Linked DNA regions of Homo sapiens: region 2 is linked to region 1. The links come from fine-mapping of genetic effects on gene expression. Tissue or cell type: caudate. Region 1 holds a variant in brackets; the other region holds the start of a gene. All regions are shown on one strand. Distances are from middle to middle.

Evidence for each region.
Region 2: it holds the start of MID1IP1, and the variant in region 1 is fine-mapped to the expression of MID1IP1 in caudate (GTEx, PIP above 0.99). The same link has a PIP of 0.9 or more in hypothalamus.

What each region holds. Positions count from the first base shown.
Region 1 is chrX:38,840,437-38,848,774 of GRCh38, reverse strand. No RefSeq gene overlaps it. Among named protein-coding and RNA genes, the nearest start is that of MID1IP1-AS1, 41 kb to the right of the region's middle. The variant C/T (reference allele first, on the strand shown) is at 3,263.
Region 2 is chrX:38,796,237-38,804,574 of GRCh38, reverse strand. It overlaps MID1IP1 (MID1 interacting protein 1), which reads right to left and starts at 3,116. Exons shown (of 3, transcript NM_021242.6): 1 at 3,088-3,116; 2 at 162-2,040. It overlaps MID1IP1-AS1 (MID1IP1 antisense RNA 1), which reads left to right and starts at 692. Exons shown (of 2, transcript NR_046706.1): 1 at 692-842; 2 at 2,783-3,327. RefSeq lists a silencer at 360-579 and enhancers at 382-1,223, 1,224-2,065, 2,399-2,906, 3,016-3,095, 3,125-3,419.

The sequences.
Region 1 (8,338 bases):
TTCTCTGATGTTTTTCTCATAATGGGACTGCAATTGTGTGTTTTTAGAAGAAAGACCACCTAAGTGAAGTGCCATTTTCGTCACATCACTTCAAGGGTACACACCATCAACATGACTGACCACTGTTGATGCTGACCCTTGATCACCTGGCTGAGATAGCATTTATCAGGTTTCCCCACTGTAAAGTTACTCTTCCCCCAGCTCTTCTATATTGTATGCTTGAAAGAAAGTCCCTGTAGCCAACACATCAGGAGTGGGAAGTTATATCCCATCCCTTGAAGGCAGAGAACCTACATAAATTATTTGGAATTTATCTGCACAGGAGACTTGTGTCTTTCTCTCCCATTTATTTATGTATTCAAGTACTTATTTATATCAGTATGACTCGTGGATATTTATTTTATACTTTTGGTTTTATTTATTTATTTATTTTCTCTTTTTTCTCTTTTTTTTTTATATCATACTTTTGGTTTTAAATCGATATTACTTCATGTTGTTGCTCAAATTTTTCCAGCTTTAGCCACTGGGAGCTTTTTCAGTAAGCCCCTGTGTCCCTTTGACATATTCTCATCAATAGATTTTTTTTTTCTAGCATTTTCTTACTTTTGGCACTCCAGTCAGTTGAACATTGAGGACCACTGTGCTGGCCATTGCTAGATATATGTATTTATGAAAAGTCTGCCATCCTTTGTCTATTTGGTGGTTATGCAATGGAGGGTGCAGCCTTGTTATCAGTGAGGGTTGCATAAGGAATTGTAGATTTGGCCGACTGAAGTTTTTGGCCTTGATTGAGTCTTTAGGGTTCTTTAATGAAATCCATATTAATCCACTTATGGTGATACTAATCCAAACAGCTGAAATTAGTAAAATGTATCTGCTAGCTCCTGCCGCTGGCAAGTGACAAAATAAGAGTCAGGTACAGCTGCAGTCAGGCAAGAGAAAGAAGAAACATCAGGGTTATGTCAAGGAGATTTTCAAAGAAATGGTGCAGAGCAAAATCCACAGACACTTGAGCAAGAGAGAGCTCTTTCTGTGAGGCCTTGGCTCACTTAATGCCTGCAGCTTTGACAAAGAACAACCAAAGCACACTCCACCTCCACCCACCCAGCTGCTTTTATTTTATATTTTTCTAAGTGCTTTTCTTAAAGATGTTTAGAGTTAGGGTCAGACAAAAAGAGGGGATAGGAATAAGGGAGGAAAATGCTTAAAGATCAGGAAGTCCCTTTATACTGTAGGACTGCATGTGAGAATCATTTGAGCCCCTTCAGACTCTCTTCAAGACAACACATGAAAAAGAAAATCTTCTTTTCACCATACCAGCTACCGAATTTGGCTTTTGTGTATTTCTAGGTTAATGTGCAACCAGGACCTTTGGAAACCTGATAAAGCAGTATAATAAGCAGCGAATGCAATCCAGAGAGCTTGAACGTCTGTAGATGTTGCTTGATTGATATAAAACAATAGTTTTTCTCCCCCTACAATCTAGACTTCACTAGAAGCCCCATTTTTAATAGAGTCACTCTCTGGTTATTTTATCGCTGTGATTACTAATATCACATGCCCTGCCTGTGTTGCCTGTCTCTTTCCTATTCATCTTCAGATACAGTCCCTCATCGAATCATGTGTCCTTTGTTTCTAATGTAAGACTATGGTCATCATACCATTGTATCAGGTCCCAGATCAGCACTTTCCACCTCCCTTCACAATGGTGCATCCCTGCCCTTGAATAACCTGCACTCAAACCAGGCTCAATGATGCCCAAATGCTTCCATTGTCCTTAGGCCTATGCTGCACCTGATCCCTATGCTTGGGCCAAGAACATCTCCTTTCCCCCATTCATCCCTGTTAACCAGGGTTTTCTTCCTTACTTCAACCAAAAAGGGGGGAAATCTACTACCCTCATCCAATTAAGGAAACAACTCACATCCTACTCACCACAAAGTCCTCCTTTCTTGATCTAAAGGTGACACCATGTTTTGTCCGTGTCCGATATTCTCTAGTCATCTCTGCCTCCAACCATATCTTGCCTACCTTGTCCCCAAAACCCACCACAGATGAGCTATGCTAGACCTCAAAGGTCAGTCCAGTTTCCAAGATTAGATGGGGAGCCAGCAAACAAAAAGTACAATAGATGTCCTCAAGATCAAAGATACAAAAAAAGTGAATGAAGCTCCTTCATCTCACCTTCCTCTGCTCCATACAGATGCTCTCTAGAAGTTTGGTGATCATGTGGTTGTGTGTGCATGCACAACTGGCACAGTCCACAGATTACAATTACTATTTAGAGAGGTTCACAGCCCCAGCCTCCATCCTGTAACTCAGCACAATCTGCACCCTCTCACTTGTTACTGTATCATTGGACTTACTAAAGATTTCCGTGCAAAAGATCTGGCCAAAGCTTTCCACAATAGGTCATACAGGAAATTTTTAAAAATACATTTCCTATCCTTCATTAACATATTGTGGGCTTTGGCTGCAGTCTTTCATGTTTACGTACTGAATTGTCTTTCATCTGGTTCCTATTGCACTTTTAATTTCATTTTTTTTTTGCTGCAGCACTGCCACATCATTACATAGCATTTCTGCATGAGTTTCTTGAGGGACAAGCCTAGGCCTCACCTGTCTTAAATCCTCAGTATTTAGCACAGGTCTTCTACAGAGCATTTATGCAAATGCTTGCCAAATTGCTGCTAAATGTTTTCACCACAGCACAGTGGCTGGTAAATTGTAAGTCCTCATAAAGAGGAAATTGTACCTATTTTATTTTCTGCACAGAACCTAGCACATGCAATGAAGTATTTAACAAGTTCTTTTGAAAATTGATGCTGTAACTTGTCTCAACTTTCCCTACCTGTCTATATTTCCTATGTGTTTCTCTTTGTTAGTCATACACATTTGCAAAAAGGTAAGGAAACCAGAAAGGCAGGGATATTTTGCCTGCTATCTCTTAAAGCCAAATAGGAACAAATCAGTATCTGTGACATCACTGTTATCTCCTTTTGAGATGAACATCAAGGACTACGGTTTTAGATGATAAGTAAATGACACTAAGACCAGAAAAAACTTAATAGATGACTGAGCCCATTTCACCAGCTCCCTCAGGCCACCTGCCAGTGCGAGAAAAGAACATGCAGTAACCCTATCAGCCCGCTTTACAATTAGAATGAATTCATGAGAAACAAAAGATCTTGTTTTCATGGGAAAATATTCTTTGTGATATCCAACAAAGGGAGAATAATTTTGAAAGCATGTGACTTGGGGG[C/T]CCATCCTGCAGTTTTTGCACAGACAAAACTCTCATTGACTCTATCAATAGAATTGTTGCTACATAAAAAGTCTTCGGCAAAATTTCCATGATGCTTCAGAGCGCATTTTAAGTGCATCAGCCCCAGCATCCCACGCCCTCCCCATTTTAATAAAGCTGGAGAAGGTTTCCCTTCGATTGCCCTATTGTGCAGCAGGAGACAAGCACAGCACAGGATTAGAAGCCAGTGGACACCCCTCACCCCTACCCTTGCATATATCATCATACCAAAATCCATGGCAATATAGAGAAGTTCAAATTTCAACTGAATTTCTGAGCTTGAATTTTCCATTTCAAATTGCTCTTGCCAGGTAGACAGAAAGCAGATTTCTTGCAGGCTTCAATAAATACCATCTCCAAGTAAAATCCACATTTTTCAAATAGATAACAGTATAATGATTGGTATTGCTATTCCAGCTATGGCTGAATAGCAAGCAGTCCATTCCTTTTTATGTGGTATGCTCCTTAAGAGCCTCAAAAGATGAAATTGGACCTTCAGTGCTGCTGGAATGAAGGACAATGGGCCCAATCTCTACTTTTGAATTCTCTTAGCAAATGTACTGCATAAAATAGAATGCAATGCTAGGAAAGACTTTACTTCTAAAAAAAAATAGCAGGCAATATCTGTTCTAATAGGTGATTCATTCTCTCCCATACCAGTGATGTTGTTAATTCAATTGATACAATTTTAAGTTGGTGCTATATTCTTAAACTACAAAAAATTTTTTACTTTAATTCATGAGTTTTGCCCTAAAAAAGCTAATACTTACAGTATCACAAATAAACATAAGAGAAAAATTTGGGAGTCTGTGGCCTCTGCCTTGAAACTTTTAAGAAACTGAAAGACCCTTACCAGCCTGAGATGATATAGGCCAGTGGTTAGCCTCTCTGGGAAATGAAACCAAATTATGCGACCAGAAAAAATTAAGATATCATAAAACCTAAAGCCTTAGGTCTTCATAAATACTCCATGATATTTCTCTCTCTCTCTCTCTCTCTCTCTCTCACACACACACACACACACACACACACACACACACCCTTATAGGGACTTTTTTAGCCTTTAAATGTTTACAAAATATATACTTTGCTCCATAACATCTGGATTTTAATTGCACACTTATTCTGAAGTTACTTCACATCTATGTATCTTGTCTTCACCAGAAGAGAAGGAACCTAAGGCAGGAACTATGTTTTCAATCTCACTTTTATTCTTTCACAAATAGTAATATTAATCAGAGTAATGACTGACATGTATTGAGTGCTTAATATATATCAGATGCTCTTCCAAGCGTTCTACATTATTATCTCATTTAATGCTCACTAAAACCCCATTGGGAAGGTACAAATCCATTCTACAAAAGAAAAAAAATGATGCAAATAGCAGGTTTTTAGCAAATAATTGTTGACTGATCTAAATAAATGGAGCCCAATAGGAAGTTCCTAAAACTATTAGCAAAGAAGCTGTGGCCAGTGACATTTCCTTAATGATTCTGTATTATGCTTACCCTTAGTCAACAGGTGTAACAGAGACAGCTATTAGCTTCCCAATAACCATTCCCTTCTTCCTCATTGGAAACGAAGCCCTGATTTTCCCCGCAGAATTCCTTGCAGCTAGATATGACCTTATGGCCAAATTCTCACCAGTGAAATTTATAAAAAAGTGTTGTCTGGTATTTCTGGGAAGAACTTTAAAATGAAGGAGGCAGGTCCATCTTCTCCTTCCTCTTTCCTGCTGTTCAGAACACATATGTAATGCTAATATTCAGCGGCTGTTTTGGACCATGAGGTGACCTTAGGAATTGAAGTCACATACAGCTGAACAAGATAAAGGAGTGTTGGTGCCTGACATGGTGAAGTCACCATACCACTTCTGGCTACCTACATCCAAACTTCTTTTACTTAAAAACAGAGAACTAGGATTCTAGCTTGTTTAAGCTACTGTTATGTTTTCTTTTCTATTATATGGAGCCAAACCTACATCAAACTAACAGTTGGCATATACACAATAACAAAAATGTTTCTTTGATACATATAATGAAAGGTTATGCTCATATTCAAAGGGGAGATCAAAATGTTCTTTTAAAAAGCAAAGTCTTTGAGTTTACTCAAGATGAAAATTTTCTGATTATGAGAGTAATACACTTCTATTTGGAAAACTTAAAAATTTTGGAAAGAAATAAGAAAAAATTACACATCTCTAATTCTACCAGTCAGAACAGAATTGAATTAATTAATTTCAATTAATCCCTGAAAATTAATATATAAATCATCAAATCTTGTGATGGAAAGAGACCCTAAAAGTCATATTGTCTGACATTTTACTAAAGCCAGCATCCTTTTGACAGCACTTCTCCCTGATGTCTATCCAGTCTCTCCTTGAATAGTTCCAATGATAAAGAGCTCAAAGATTTATGAAATGGTTTAGTCCATAGTTGGAGTCAATCTGTCTTAAGTTCTATCCCACATTAATGAAAATTGGCCTCCTTGATATCTGAAGCAGCCAAAAAATAAATTTATTGCTTCTCAAACATCATGTTCCATTAAACATTTGAAGGCAGACATAAAAGCTATATTTTCCATAGTCAGTCACAAACTATGTGCTAAGCATTGTAGCAGGAATGGAAATATAGGCCATGACTGAAAATAATCCAAGTGATATATAGTGATGGCAAACTATGTGAAGACAGGAGTAGATATGTTCCAAAGACCTTTTTTTTAATTGATGACAGAATCGGTGTCAAACTAAATATGGAGGGTCAAAAGAGCCAAGAAACAAGGAATATGATGATGTCTTTAATGAACAGAGAATACTCAAACAGCAGCAGAAGCACATTTGTAAGTGAGTAGTAGGGGTGGAGAGTCAGGGGAAGAGGTTACAAAGAGGTTAAATTTTGAAAATAAACCTTTGAGGTGCATATGGGACCCCCAAATAGGGATGTACGATAGAGTCAAAAACATATGTCTGGAGTATAAAGGGATGTTAACTCTTATATTGTCCTCTTAATCCAGCTATTAGAAGTAGTAAAGGATAGGGTGCTGTGCTTCTGAATGGTAAAATGTCCCAAGAATACAGGAATATGTATCGCCCACTCTAGACACTGCCATCCTCCCTTGAGAGGGAGAGGTTCATGAAAGAGACACAAACACACACACAAAAATAATGAAACAGGAAAAATGAAACAAATCCTTATTGATTTCTGAATTTAGATCCCAAGCTTCCAAAAAGAGATATTGTAATATTTGGGCTGGGCCACGTGTAGCATAACCTTTTTCCTAGGCTACTTAGCGTAAATGCCTTCAGCCCAAAGCAGGCTGTGAGTGAGGCCTGTGAATGTTTTTACCTGCCCCCAAATTTTAGATCTAACCATACTCCAGTCCCACGTCAAGAAAAAAGAAAAGTTAGTTTGTTGGATATACTCCAGGAGAGTAAGCCCTGAATTGGCTTATCATTTCTGGCATATGGATGGCAGATAAAGAAGAGAGAGGAAGAGAGTCTCTAATAGAAAGTAGGCCCTGACCTTTTCCACTTCAGTAGTATTTCCAAGAACAGCAAAATAGTCACACCCAAGTGCTGACCTGTTAATACACAGTGACTGTGTCCACTGGCAAACATAGCATAATCATGTCCCAGATTTGAATCCAAAAAAATACTCCTCCTCGGATATAGATTGAAGGGAGAAGGAAAAACAGGCTCTTCTTCCTAGAGTAACTTATAGCCAAGGGAATCATAGCTTTTGGATAGCTTTGTAGACTTACTGGTTTGTATTAAAGTTGGAACCAATTAAATCCCCTAGGTCATTTTAATAAGAAGTCCTGAGATCTCCTTCCAACTTACACTCAGGTGATTAAATCATGAACCCTTAATGAGAAGTTCGCACTTATCTCTGTTAGGTTTAATTTTGCTGCTTTTGTTTCCTAACTCCAATTTATGACATTATCTTTGAATATTTATTTTGTTCTCTGACTTATTTTCCAACACTCCCAGTCTAACAATCTCTTTCAGCTTTAGTTCATTTCTAAATTTGATTCATGAGTCTTTGGGGTCTTCATTCAAAGAGTTGAAGAAAGTAAAAAAAGAAAAGGCCAAAGTTAGAGGTCTGGAACCCACTACCAAAAACCTCATCCTAAGCTGACAAGAATCTAATTTTTTAAAAATGTTCAAGTAGCCATGAAACTTCACAATAGTAGAATTATTAGGATGTTACTTTTCTAAGTTGTCCACAAAGACATCATGACTAACAAATAGTGGTTTAAATCATGCTATTCCACTGGCCATTCCATTATCCTGTCAGTCTCAGGACTCTGTTTTTAAAAAGGAAATGAAAGTAGTTCACTTTTCAATTATACACAAATACAATACCACAGAGACAAGCTAATGAAAATACTCCTCACAGCCATTGTCTCCAAGAATCCACCTTTTCATGTGTATATGTGACAGATTATATCCCTAATCTGTTTGCATCAAGCTTGGAACAAAGAAATTTTATAACTAGTAGCAATATTTTGTTAGGTACATTTGCCACACAGAAGCTTTTTTTTAAAAGGCAGAGCAATTAGCAATTTTATCAGTTTGTTCATGTATTTGCATTTTGTATATATTTGCATTTCATATTTAATTTGGTGCCCCATAACTGTTATAAAATTAACTAGACTCAACAGACACTTTTACTTACTAACACTGAGTGATGTACCCTTAAATTAATAATTAGATCTGAGATCTAATTATTAAATAGATAAATAAATAGAAGTACAATCAACAGGAAAATTGCTCTTCCATGCAACTGATATTGAATGCAATTTCCTTTAGTACAGCATACATAGAGGTAAGCCTATTGAGACACATATATCAAAATATATAATATTCTATTGTCAAAATGTTAAAACATTTGTTAGATCACTTCAGAGGATAATAATTTTTAATAAAATCTATAACATTTCTGCAAGTATCTTTAGATTTTTTAAAACAAGAAACTTTGGTTGCGTTATGTTTACAAGTGAGTCTTAGTGCCTGAGTCTCTGCTATGAGATTTTAGT
Region 2 (8,338 bases), 44 kb after region 1:
CGGCGCCTGGGTGGCTCCCCGCGGCTGGGCAGTCCCACCTCCTCGCCCACCTACGGCCGCGGGGAGAAGGGTGTCCCCCCACCACCACAACTTCTCCCTCCGAAAAGCCTGAGCTCAAGCAACCAAGCTGGCCGGGGCAGCGATGGGGCGTGGGCACCCACCTCCTCTTGCGCCTTGAGACTCTCCTGCTCGTTGGCAATTCAGTGTTCTCGCTGCAAGCGGCTGCTACGCAAGGGCGCTGCTGCGGTCAGTGGCTGGACTGTGACTGCGGACGGCGGTGACTGCGTTGGCCCCCTACCCATCCCAGGTGCTCAATTTATAGTCCAGGAAAGGTGTCGCCGGCGCTCAGGGCCACCCCTGGTGTCTCCTCCTCCCGCCTCCCCCGGCAGCACCGAGATAAAAGGCCCAGGCCGGGATGACCGCGAGTAACACTCGCCCGGCCCTTTCTACAGCGGGGGCGGGGCGCGCCGGGCCAGCTCCGCCTCTCGCCTGATACCCGGGCTGAGGGAGGGCGCCGGGGCAGGCCAGGGCAGGGCAGGGCAGAGCAGAGGAGGAGGGATTGGAGCAGCTGGACCCCGCCAGCACCAAGCCCTGGGCAGGCCAGATGAGGAGGGCCGGGCACAGCGAGGGTCAAAAAGGCGTCGGCGTCCGGACCGACTGGAGGGTGGGGCTGGCATGTGGGGGCTGGGCGGGCCTTGCGCGCGCTCCCCGCGTGGGATGACCAGAATGCACGTGCCTTGGTTGCAGAGTGAGCCCCTCAGCCCCGAATCTGGAGTGGCCGCGGCCGGGAAACAGGAACCCGGGTTTATTATTAGCCGTCGGGGAAGAGGGGCCGGCAGCAGGTACAACTCCATCCTGGGACTCTTACGTAATAAAGGGTGACCGGGCATGCTGGGTGCACGTGGACGCGCGGTGCTCCCGCAGTGGCCCTGGCCTTGGTCAGCTATGGGGGGAGGGGAGCGTCAGAGGCTTTTGCCTCCCTCCTGGCGGGGTGGGATCTTTCCCAATCTTTCCTTTAACAGTGGTTGCCGGGGATGAAGAGGGGCACACTATCAGATCTGCTGATTCTTTGAAGAGATCTGCAAGTGGCAATGGGGAGAAGTCCATTTTTGTCCAAGTCGGCTACACAGTGATGCTGGAGAGCCTGGGCCATGTGGCCTTTTGGCTGCCAAGAGGCCAGGAGAGGGTGACAGTAGTTAGGTCTAGTCTTGGGTGTCTTTCACCATTTAACAGAGAAATGGGGAGGTGTCTAATTATTTTTGAGGGTGCTTGTGTGAAGTGTTCCTTTCAAAAGATAGTTCTTAAAGCACTGGGTCATTTAATAGGGCCTAAGCTATGTACCGAATCGCTGGATTTAACTTTTAAGAGCCTTGCACCTTGAATTTCACTTTGAGACTTCCAAACCACAGCCTATTTAATTTTTCCCATCTCATGTCCCTTGCCATATTCCTCATCCACCAGTCCTCTCTGGCAGTCCTACAATTATGTTCAATAAGATTCAAGCTTCTCATTTTAAATCCCTTTTCTCGGCCTGAAACGGTGGCTCACGCCTGTAATCCCAGCACTTTGGGAGGCCGAGGCGGGCGGATCACAAAGTCAGGGGTTCCAGACTAGCCTGGCCAACATGGTGAAACCCGGTCTCTACTAAAAATACAAAAATTAGCCGGGCGTGGTGGCCAGCGCCTGTAATCCCAGCTACTCGGGAGGATGAAGCAGGAGAATTGCTTGAACCCAGGAGGCGGAGTTGCAGTGAGCCGAGATCGTGCCACTGCACTCCAGCCTGGGCGACAGAGCAAGACTCTGTCTCAAATAAAAAAAAAAAAGATCCCTTTTCTCTAAAACTTAACAGAGGTCTCTGTCCCTAGTACAGTTTTTTCCCACGGGACAAAAAATGCCTAAGGAAGGGAGAACATAATAAAGGGGTTTCTTTCTCTCCCTCTTTCTTTCACATTAAGACCTACACTTAAATATTTTCCATAGAAAACCATCTTCCTAATTGTCTTTTGAATGAAATTCTGACTTGGTGCCACAAGGACTAATCTGTTGACAAAAAACAAACAAAACAAAACAAAGTCAGTGACCCTTGGAGACAGACCTAAGTCTGAGGACCCACTACCCCAAAACGTATTAGCTCTACATCACAGCCCATGTTTTCTTACTTGCAAAACTGGGATAGACCTATCAGGGTTTTGAAGGAAGATCAATGGAAAGAAAAATACAGGGAGGCAGGAAGCATTATATAACTTTGAAGCATTAAAATAATTTCACCTTCCTTCTCTGCACACATAGAAACTTTTCTAGCCTCAGTTTCTTTATCAAAAAAATGGAGCTTGTTCCATGGGCCGTGCCAAGGACTTTGATTAAGTTTAAATATGATAATGTAAATAAAAATCACTATGTAAATTGTAAAGTACAAAGATTAATTGTACTTGATACAGGACCTCATCATAGTGAGAGGTGTTTATGTGAAGAGTCAGAAACCTTAAAAGTGTGGAAATTGCCTATGATGAGCCACAGATCCTTCCACCCAACCCCCAGTGCTTAAGCAGGAAAATAATATAAAATATGTCCAATGAGATTGAAAGAGCACTGCAAGAAGAAAACTCGAGAAAAACAGATATACAGTTTCTAGTAGCTGATCTTCTCATAAATTAAAGCGTACTTTGTCCCCCTTCCTGGACCCATTTGGTATTTTAAGTACGTATGCACCCGGATGAAAACTCGGTATTCAGACTTAACTTACTAAATGCCAAAATCTTGCCTCTTTTTCTCTTCTTCCCAGTTCCAACAGTGTGATAACACACGGAAAACGGAAATCCAAGGGATCTAGCAAAAGGATTCCACCCAGCAAAAACGCCAGCTTGGGAGAGGGCCCCTACCTAACTCCTTCCTTCTGGCCTCCACCCCTCCCCTGATACGTTTCCTTCCGTCTAGTCTCGAGATAACCCTTCATCCCCCAGTTTCTTGACTCTGGCCGCTGTTCTTGAACATTTCTTAAACACTTTCAGAGAAAGATGGCTCATGCACCTGCCTGCAAAACTTCCCAAACCGGGCCTCCCAGCTCCCCCAGACCCCGCAACAACTCACACCCGCCGGGGAAACTCCAGAAGGAAAAGGTCCGCCGGCCAGAGCTCTGGGCCCTTGGAATCACCCCACCACCGCCCCTCTGGCTTCAGCCAATCAGAAGCCGTCAGAAAATATTATGCAAATGAATCCTGATGCTCCAGCCAGTCAGAAGCCGCGGAGCCCTCCCCCACGCAGCGTCCTCTTTCACCCCAGCCCCGCCAAGCTGGCTGCCGCGTCCCTGGCAACCGGCGCGCAGCCAGTTCTCCACTACGCTTGGCTGTAAAAAAATTAAAATGGTTGCCTGGGGTCACATGGGAGGGGAGCGGGCTGGCCCAGGCCTAAGGAAGGTTGGAAACCTCACTGATTGCCCCAGGCACCTTCCCTGTCCCGATCTGGAACAGGCTGGAGGTGCTGAGCCACCTGCCCGGAATTCAGTTTGCCTCCAGAAAACAGAAGTCATCCGTTGAACAAATAACTTTCGAGTCCTTGTAGCACGCCAACAGCCTCAAAGCAAGAGGTCTTTGGTCTCTGCTTTCTATCCTATATGCTAAATTTCCGGTAAAAGCCTTGTCTGAGGTACCCATCCCCACTTCTTGGTTCACAGTTGCAATTCTGGAATTCTGGATCTCTTTTTTTTTGTTTTGTTTTTTTTTGAGACGGAGTCTCGCACTGTCGCCAGGCTGGAGTGCAGTGGAGCAATCTCGGCTCACTTCAACCTCTGCCTCCCGGGTTCAAGTGATTCTCCTGCCTCAGCCTCTCCAGTAGCTTGGACTACAGGCGCGCACCACCACGCCCAGCTAATTTTTATATTTTTAGTAGAGACGGGGTTTCACCATGTTGGCCAGGATGGTCTCGATCTCTTGACCTCTTGATCCGCCCGCCTCGGCCTCCCAAAGTGCTGGGATTACAGGCGTAAGCCACCAGCGCCCTGCCGGAACTCTTAAATTCTGGTTCTTAATTCCCACTCTTTTAATTAAGCAACCTGGAAAGCATGCTTTGCTGGCTCATCTCCCCAAAAATGTCCACAAATTATCCTTGTACTGTGTCCCTTGGATAGTTTTTTTTTGGGGGGGGGGAATGACATTTTAAAAGTGACCAGAAATTCCTGAACAAAGTAGTCAGCAAGAGTAAACTGGTGCAAGAAAGTCAGACTGGATAAAGAAGAGATCTGGCCTAGAACTGGAAGAAAGATGATATTTTAAGGCAAGAAGCCAGCCCAACCCAAGATAGCAGAGATCCTGGATTATTTTGAGACAGACTTAGAAGGATCCATTTCATGAAAAATGTCCTAGAAATATGACAGTCAGACTCTCGTGTTAAAGGCCATGTAGTCCAACCATCCACTTGTGCTGAAATCGCTCACAACATCCCCACCAAGTGGTCGCCCTTGCCTACATTCTTCTATTTTCCGTTCTCCAGTGTTCTTCTATCTTTTGGAGCTCTACAGAAGGCCATGAAGCACACCATCAGATGTTTGAAGGTAGATATGGTCTCCTTAAGTCTACTGTTCTTCAAGTCAGTTATCCCCAGTTCCTGTAGCCATTCTTCATGTTCTCTTTTGAGTCGCTCATCCATCCTAGTCACTAACTTTAGAAGTAGCTCTGGTTTGCTTTTGAGTGTGGCCCCTCTCATTCCAAGTACCATCTTTTCTAGGACAAAATGGAGTGGCACAGCCACTTATATTATTGTGAATGGTAATTTTTCTAGGTCATATTTATTGAGCACAAGTGCTTGGAAATTAGACTTGTTAACTCAAAAGACATGTTAACTCATTTTAACTTCACAACCACCCTGAGAAGAAAGCAAGGATCAAAGAGTTTAAGGGCCAAACTGTCAGAACTGGGATTTGACCCAGTTTTCTAATGCCAAATCCAATGTTCTTTCTACTACTCAATAGATAGCTACTGCTTATAATGCTGCCTAACATTTAATGGACTTATTTTAACAGCTACATCTATATGCTGCCATCTATATAACAAAATTTTGTGTACCCTATACTTGAGTAGTGGGGATTTTTTGGACCAAAGTACAGAACTTTATATTATCCTACTTAAACTTTATCTCATTGGATTTGGCCCATTAGTTCAGCCTGTTTTATTATTTTGGGTCCTGATTCTGTGCTGTAATGCACTTGGATCTTACCCATATATTTGATAACTATTCTATATATTTATCCAAGTTATTGATAATAGGTACCAGGCACCACTGGGCAAGAGGCAAATTGCTGTAGAACATCTGGAGAGCTCCTTCAGTTTGATATCCGTCCATTAATTGGCACTTTTTGGCATAAGTTGTTCCAGCCAGCTATGAATCATGTTAATTGTACAGTCATCCAGCCTATATTTTTCTTCTTGACCACAGGATATTATGAGAGACCTTGCTAAGTGCCTTGCTGAAGTCCCAAGCTAATAGCCAGTTTTCTTCCTGTGGAGTCAAGAAGAAGGGCATTTTTGTCATATACCACAAAGAAACCACCATCACATGATACAAAAATGCAGAAATAGCATCATAATAATCTGAGTTAAGATGGGGAAGGGAGTGTATCTTATTGTAATTGTCCTTACAGGAAAAACCGTCATGAAGGTTTAGTTGAGAGAAGGTAGACAGAAAAATGCCAAAACCTAAGAACAGTGAGTAGTGAATCTGCTGGCTTCAGATCCACTTTCAGGTTTTGGAATGTCTGAATATGTCGTAGTTAGCATTTTGTCACAATCTCATTTTTTAAAGCGTCTTTAGCCTTGCGTTTGGAAGAAGTAGAGCACAGGGAAAGTTGAGAATACTAAAGAATACCTTTTGTTATGTTCTCATCATTTCTACATCTTTAAGAACTCTGAACCGTATACAGAACTGTACATTCAATTTCAATATGGTAGATGAGAAAAGGGCAAGACACATCATAGCTTTTCTTACCACATAGAAACTTCTCAAGTTGATTTTTCCTAGATCCTTAGGATTCCAGGACTTTCTTGTACCATCAGCATAGAAGGAAGAATGAGAATGTTCTTTCTTCACTCTATCCTGTTAAAATGTGTCAGCTTGGTTAGTTTAAATTCTGAAATTAGATTCAAAGTTTACAAATTATAACACCAAATTAGGGAGAAAACACATAATTATCAATATTTCATATGTTCAAGTCCTAATTACAAATCCACATATATACATATACATATGGGTTGTAGCTTCATTTTGTTGAAGCTACAGTGTCATAAATACATTATCCAATGGACGGGTTCAACAGTTACACGCCCAAGTCTTCCATAATTTACTCTTCCAACCTTAATAATAAAAAAACTAGACCTAGACAAGGTACAATGAAGTCAAGGCGAATTCACCTACATCATATTAGACAGTCTGGACAGAGTTAGTACACAAAAGATGTAAATCTAGAAGCAAATACAACCTACAAGTCCTTCCAGCTATAGAAGACCTTGATAAGAATAGAAAAATAATAAACAATTAGGAAGATTTGAAAAAGGATATTGCAGAGCAAAAGAAACAAAATTTGAACCAAACACATCACTAGAGAGTCAATAAATGTAATTCCAAACAAGGAACAAAACAGGCATGCCAGAAAATTCAGTTACTGGCATAGGGCAAAAGGTTCAGGTAATCCCAATGAAAAGACACAAAAGAGTGAAAGAAAATGGAGAGGAAATGTTGGATAGAGAAGACAAAGACAACATAATATAGGCCAGGCGCAGTGGCTCACACCTGTAATCCCAGCACTTTGGGAGGCTGAGGTGGGTAGATCACTTGAGGTCAGGAGTTTGAGACCAGCCTGGCCAACATAGTGAAACCCCATCTCTACTAAAAATACAAAAAAATTTAGCTGGGCATGGTTGTGCATGCCTGTAATCCCAGCTACTTGGGAGGCTGAGGCAGGAGAATCACTTGAACCCAGGGGGCGGAAGTTGCAGTGAGCCGAGATCATGCCACTGCACTCCAGCCTGGGCAACAGAGTGAGACCCCGTCTCAAAACACACACACACATACACACACACACACACACACACACACACACACACACACACACAATATAAGCTTAACTGATGTTTCCAAAGAGACCTCAACATGTGAAATAGAAGAAATTCAGTTGTAACATAGAAAATTTTCCTTGACAAGATGCATTCATCTGCAGATTTAATAAGCATACTATATACCAGATAAAATTATGCAGAACAGTTGAAAAACAAGCTAGTTGTATTTTTCAACTTCAAAGAAGAAGAAAAAAAGCCTTCAAGTGTCCAAGCAGGAAAAGAAGTCACCAAAAAGATGGTGGTCTCAGGGGAGGAGAGAATCCAACCAGCTTTACAAAAACATTCCACTACAGGAGACAGTGGAGCTGGAAGAAAGAATGTATGATTCAAAAGTATTATATTACTCAAGCAAAAAACAATAAGCAGACATTCTCAAACATGAACTCAGGATTTTTCTTGAGAAACTTACTGGTAGAAGCCTGCCAACAACAAAAAAAATTAATTTAAATGAGTAATCCAGGAATGGAGAAACCCTGATGAAGAGATTCATAGTGAGTTTGAATCAATTTAAATGCAGAAGTAAGGTAAAACAGTGTGGATACTGGTTGCAGAATATAACGTAAATATTTTAAACCCTGAAGATGAAAAAATAATGCAAGCAACAAAACTGGAAGATGGGGGAATGAAAAATAGCAGAGCTAACCAACTTTCATTGCAGCAGGTCAATCAATGATGCCTAAAACCAAATTGTGCCATTTAAAAACTAAAGACACAAACATCTTAAAACTTTACAAAATATTTTTTCTCAATTTAAAGAGATCTTTTAGGAACTAATACATTCCATAGCAAAGAGTCTGTTTTCTAAAGTTCAGTATTTCTTTCAGTGTAATTTCAAGTAAAATTAATTTTAACATTTCATTTAAAGTAGTAGGTATGATAATGTTCTTTTTCTTCATCTGGGTGCAAGGCGCTAGTTACACAGGTGTGCTCATCTTGTGAAAAATTGTTGAGCTGACACTTATGTTTGAACTTTTTTGCATATATCTTATACTTAAATAAATTTTTTGAAATTCCATTCACATAAAATTCTAGGGGGTGTGAAGAGAGGGGGTGAGAGAGTCAACAGTCTGAGGCAGTGACCTGGTTTGGAATTAAATGCTCTCAGTAATTTTTGCATAAAAACGTTTGTGAACCCAACTTAAATGGGAATAGGAAAGTAGTAAGCTCTCCAAATTTTGGACCCTTGGGGCAGAAACCATTGTTTTTGCTCTCTGCTCCTGTCAACTGCAGTTTAA